Regions from separate parts of the Homo sapiens genome. Here region 1 is linked to region 2. Evidence: fine-mapped expression QTL. A gene starts in region 2. The other region holds a variant in brackets. All regions are shown on one strand. Distances are between the middles of the regions.

Region 1 (2,908 bases), 870 kb before region 2:
CTCTGGGAGAAAATATTTGCCACATCTGTAACTGACAAAGGATTATTGTCTATAACATATATATAAAGAACTGTATCAGTAAACAACTCTGAGATGAAATGGGGAAAGGCTTGAAAACACTTCACAGAGAGAAATAAAAAACGGCTCTAAGTACATGAAAACGCACAAGCTCATTAGCAGCCACAACAAGAAACCATTTCATACCCAGCAGACTGGCAAAGATTTTAACGTTGACAATACCAGCGCTTGGGAAGGGGAAGGATGTGGAACTCTGTGCACATGCCCAGTGGAAAGTAATTGTTACAACCCATTTGGAAAAAAAAAAAAAAAAACCATTTGGAAACCAACCGAGCAGAATCTAGAAAATGTGAAGAAGGCATGTGCTCTATGACCCCTCAACTCAACCTCTGGGGAAAAAAGGGCCTTGGAGACCTGCTGTGTCTGTGCAGGAAGAGATGGAAGAGAGTGGGCACAGTGGCTCTTTCTGCAGTAGCAGAAAGCCAGACGCCAATCCAATGTCCATAACAAAAGGATGGTATACTCCTTCAACTAAAATCCAGATGGCAGGGAAAGTAGATAAATCACAGTTACACAAAAAACATGGATAAATCTCAGAGACACACAGAACTGAATGAAACTAGAAATCACAGAATAATATATAAAGTATGATTCTGTTTATTTTAAACTCAAAAATCAGAAAAACCAAACTAGCTGTTGTTTAAAATAACAAACGTGTGGAAGAACTGTGAAGAAAATCAAGGGAGGGATAAACACAAAATTTAGGATACAGTACTTGGAGGGGACAGAAGAAAGGGATGGCTCCGGAGGGACCTAGAGACCTCAAACAGGATGGTGGCCTTTTACTTAAACTGGAAATTGAGTCTACGGGCATTACACACATAGTTAAGTGCATGTTATGCATATTTTCAAAATTACAAAAATAAAAGGAAACCGAGAGGCTCCGTGGGAACCACTTGATTCTCACTGAAACTGATGGAGGGGAAGGAGGGTGCCACCTCCCTGCCATTCCCAAGGCCCGCGCTCAGGCAGCTGCTTCCGACCCCCGGGGACGCCCGCCCCGTGGACCAAACACACACTATCATTTCCTAAGTGTGGGAGCACGGGAGTAAAGGAGCACGACTGGGCCGCTCATCACTGGGAGAGGCGGGCAGGGAAGGAGCAGTAGGGGGAGAAGCGGGACAACCCCTGGCCGCCACCCTCCACCACGGTCCGCATTCTGCCGTTGGCCTCGGCCCAGCGTGCTTTCCTCTGCTAGCCAGCCAGGTCCTACTGTGTGTTGGGGGTAAGGGGGAAGCAAGGCTATTCTGAATCTCCACTCCACGGCCTCTCTCCCTCTCCTCCCAAATGCTCCTCCTTCAGGCCACATCCTGACGCAGCTGCTGACACCCTCATATTCAGCATCCACCGTAAGCTTTTTCATTTGCTCCCAGTGAACATTTTCAGGGATGTCAAGGAGGAGGAGGAAAGGGGGTGCCATCGGGAAGGGCTGGCAATGACAAGGCCAGGGATGGTGAAGAGACCCTGCAATTAGTTCCTGACCTCCATCTCACCTCAAGCCCAAGTCCTGCCATTTCAACTCAGGGAACTTGTTTCTGGCCACTGCTGGGGCCGCCTCCTCCACTGTGGGCGCTCAGCTGCCCGGTGTCCTGCCAGT[C/A]CCCTCCCTAAACCAGGATCACTGCGCGGAGGTCACCTGGAATCACCCGTACTTGTGGGTCCTAGACACCCTGTGACTCATTAATGTCCCTGGTGCCAAGAAGCTACAGCAGGAAAATTCACTACAGCAGGAAAATTTCTCTGTTATCTCAGAGAAGCCCACCTGAAGAGGCAGTCCTCGCCAGATCTCCGCTTATCGCCTCTGTGTGAGCACAAGAATTATGGTGTCTTATCAAGCAGCATTTTCCCGCCGAATTAAGGGGAACGGTCCATTTGCCCTCTGACCTTTTGGAAAAGTAACCACTGGGCGCCTTTCTGGTGTGGTGGAAAATCACAGCATAGGCGCTTCTAAAGCACAGGCTATAAAACATTCTTCATGTCTTGTTCAAATCTTCAAAGCTCCCCAGTTGAAGCTCTCAGCTTGACAGCGTCCAGCTAACTCCTCCGCCTTGAGCTCTCTGTGCCTTTGGGGCCTGGGCCGCTGCTGCTTCCTTGCAACTCCAAGGAGCCTAATCAGACTTCAGATGCCCACAAGCGCTTCTTCTTTCTTCTCTACCTCTCCCTAAAAAGAAAAAACAATCATGTTGGCAAAAGGGAAATGGAACAAGGCAAATCCAGTTTATACAAATGCATCAGAGAGGTTTAGTGCTTTTCTCCTAAAAATATTCACCCATAGGCAGGGCAGGGTGGCTCACACCTGTAATCCCAGCACTTTGGGACGCCGAGATGGGTGAATCACAAGGTCAAGCGACAGAGACTATCCTGGCCAACATGGTGAAACCCCGTCTCTACTAAAAATACAAAAATTAGCTGGGTGTGGTGGCATGCACCTGTAGTCCCAGCTACTCGAGAGGCTGAGGCAGGAGAATCGCTTGAACCTTGGAGGTGGAGGTTGCAGTGAGCCGAGATCGCGCCATTGCACTCCAGCCTGGCGACAGAGCGAGACTCCATCTCAAATATATATATATATATATTCACCCATAAATCTGTAAAAGGAAAGGCTTGTAACAAACAGCTGCATCTGTTTCTACCCCGTGTCCTCAAAGCTGATACCACACAAGATACCAAGGAGGCTTCCAAAGACTTGAGGCAGAAGTCTTCAGTGTTCAAACATCCATTACGTTTTTGAGCCACTTTTTTCATTATTTAGGTCAATAAAGTCCAGTAACCAAAAGAAAGCAGGAAGGAGGGGTCAAAAGCCAGAAAGGAGCTGTGATCTATGAGTGGTTATAAC
Region 2 (2,908 bases):
GGAAAGATCTAATATAGATCTGAAAGTCATCTATATAGTTAACTTCAATGTATGACATTGTCCAAAGCAAATATGGAACATGTGAAAAAGCACAAGGTCAAAAATTAGAACATGGCACGAACACAGTAAAGAGAAGAAAATGAGCTGTTGCAAGACAGGAAAACAATCATGGATGTTCCAAAAGAAATAAAAGCAGGTGGTGAATGTGTCAAACGCTCCAATGATCAAGTAAACAACTTACACTGGATTTAGCAAATTTATATATTTCCTTGATTTTTTTCACACATTAATGCTTCAGAAATCAGACTGTATCTTATAATCAAGAGGTGCCTGAAATGAATTTCTTTATTCCCTAAAGCCAGTCACAAAACTGATAGTGTGGGCTGATAATCAATGGTATTTGAGAAGCGAGAAAGCATGGTAGTGGTAAAGAAGTTGAACCAGTATATGTGGTCTATTTTTTCCAGGAAGTTTTCAAGTAAAGGCAAGAGTCAAGAAAGGAGGTCCTGTGTTTGCTTTTTAAAAACCGTTTTACTATGAGACAAACGTATTTGAAAGCAAGGAAGTTAGAAGAAACTTTAAAACGATAAAGGACACATGCCATGACAAGCACAATTAGCAGAACAAAAAAGGATGCACTCGCGGATACAGGTGCAATCAAACACCATTCAAGCAACGATTCCTAGGCACCCGCTCCCGTTCTGGAACCCGAGGCAGCGCGGTGCCCACGGATTGGGCAGTCAGCCGCACAGTCCCCTCCGAGTGCGGCAGGAAGAGAGACAGAGTTGACAGTGGATTATCCGCGGAGACGGGTAAAACCACGCCAGGATTCCCTGCGGTTTGGTACATTACACCAGAATCAAAAAGAGACAAGAGTAAGGCCAAGTACCCCCGAGGCGGACATATGCTCCCGCCCGCTGCGTCCCTCGGCGGTCCCACCCCTCGCTTTCCGTACCGCCGCTGAGGGCCCGGCCCGCACGCCTGGACCGGAGCCGGACCTGGGGGCGGTACCCCACTGCGCGGGCTTGCTCCACGCGCGCAGACGGGACCCGCCACCACCTAGCCCTTCACCCCCAACGCCCACCCTCTCTCACCCCAGCACAACGGGGCCAGCCCCGCGCCGGCCCGCCGCTTCCCCGCAACGCGGGAAACGGCGCGGCGCCCACTCCCGCCCCAGAGCCTACCTTAGAGCCCCGAGCGCGGCTGCCGCGGGGCATCTCCGGGAGCGCCGCCTGAGCGCACCGCCTCCTCAGCGCGCCGCCGTCCCACCTCGGCGCGCCGCACCGCGCCCTGCCATTGGCGGGCGCTCGGGCGCAGGGCGGGGCTTCGGCGGGGGGCAGGGCTTCTCCGGCCCCGGCGCTCCAGGGCCTCCCGGATGGCCTAGTCGGGCCCGGAGCCCGGAAGGAGTGCCCCGCGGAGAGTCGAGCTTCCTTCCCCGGGGCTGGGGGTTCCGCGGAGCTCGCTCTGGGCTGTGGCGTTGCTCGCCCGCGAGCTCCTGGGGAGTTCGGGGGAGCTGCTGGGCTGGTGCCTGGAGCGGGGGCCGCCTCCAAGTATTGTCTTTCGAATTAAGTTACTGTCGTCTGTGTTGTCAGGCAACAACTGACCTTAAATAAAAATGAAAACCAGAAGTAGGCTACACATGCAATAGGCTACACATGCAATAATGGATACTTAAGGAATGGGAGTGGCTGCTGGTGACTGGAGCAGAGAGGGTGTGGTTTCCCCATGTTTCGGGGCCGGGGGGAAGGAGTAAAGTCTGTGTTCAGAGCCCAGACGCCATGTCGGTCATCACATCACCGGGAGAACTCGTGGAGCCTGAGGAAAGGCTACGGGGTGCCAGAGTCTGAAGGGGCGGAAGATTGCATTCCTATCACGTTCGCCGTGGCGCACAGGGGCTCCGCTGGGGCCGCCGCTCCCGCAGGAGAAGTGGGCCTGAGACGGTGCGGCGTCGACCATAGCCGGCCCAGCAGAAGCCGGGGAAGGCCACAAGTGTAACTGGGTCCGAGTACTGTGAAGAAGGCGCCTCCCATGGAGAAAGCTACCGGGTAGTTTAACAAGGTGGAAAAGCGTTGGCCTGGGGAGGAGGAAAGGATGCTCAGAAAGTTGCCTCAAAAGGACGCAGAAGTGGAGGTGAATCTTCTGTTTCAGAGGCATTTTTTTGTGCCTCTGTGAGAATGCATTGCTTCCTGGTTGATCCATCTTCAGGTTTTCTCTCCGTCCTAGTCCCTGTTCTGCCACCATTCTGTGTTTGAATCTGGTACCTAAAGCCGCAGATACTTGGTTCATAGTAGATGTCCACTCTGCAGTGGCTGAAAACACGGAAGAAAAACCATCTTTGCCTGGGAAGGACATTATTGCTAGTGCCATTACTGTCAACAGTTGGAACAAGATAAACGGCATGCCCAATCTAGTTGAGGATTTTGGACACCGGGCCTCCCACTGGGACTCCGCCGAGAAACCAGGTCTGCCATTGCCACCTCCGCCGGGCCTTGCTGTCTTAGCACAGTAAGTGCACCCGACCGCGCCCGGAGTCCCCCTTTCACTCCCACAACCAGGCCTGTGGTGAGGCTCCCGCTTGTCATCTCCACCAGGAGGTGCTGTCCTGCCGAAATGTTGGGGTTTTTCTCCAAACTTCCTCCTGTTCAGAATTCGCCATCTCAGTAGTGGCATGGACATCCACCTGGCCACAGCTCACGCAGAAACCTAGGAATTTTTGTGAACACGTTTGTGTGTCTTACTAATGTGTCCACTCTCCACTACCACTGTTTCCCAGGCCACTAGTATCTTTTGCCCAGACTGCTAGTAGCTCTTAACCCATGTCCCCTAATCCACTCTTGCCCCTCACACAGCACACACATACAATCCATTCTCAACACAGACACCACAGTGAGGTTTATGCTGTCTATAC

The links. PIP is the estimated chance that this variant, and not a neighbour inherited with it, causes the effect.
Region 1: its variant is the best candidate, but not a certain one, in a credible set for the expression of SPIDR in whole blood (INTERVAL, PIP 0.63).

Annotation. Positions count from the first base shown.
Region 1 is chr8:48,129,319-48,132,226 of GRCh38, reverse strand. No RefSeq gene overlaps it. Among named protein-coding and RNA genes, the nearest start is that of UBE2V2, 120 kb to the right of the region's middle. RefSeq lists an enhancer at 1,221-1,805. The variant C/A (reference allele first, on the strand shown) is at 1,676.
Region 2 is chr8:47,259,268-47,262,175 of GRCh38, reverse strand. It overlaps SPIDR (scaffold protein involved in DNA repair), which reads right to left and starts at 1,238. Exons shown (of 20, transcript NM_001080394.4): 1 at 1,185-1,238. The coding sequence starts at 1,217. RefSeq lists a silencer at 975-1,524.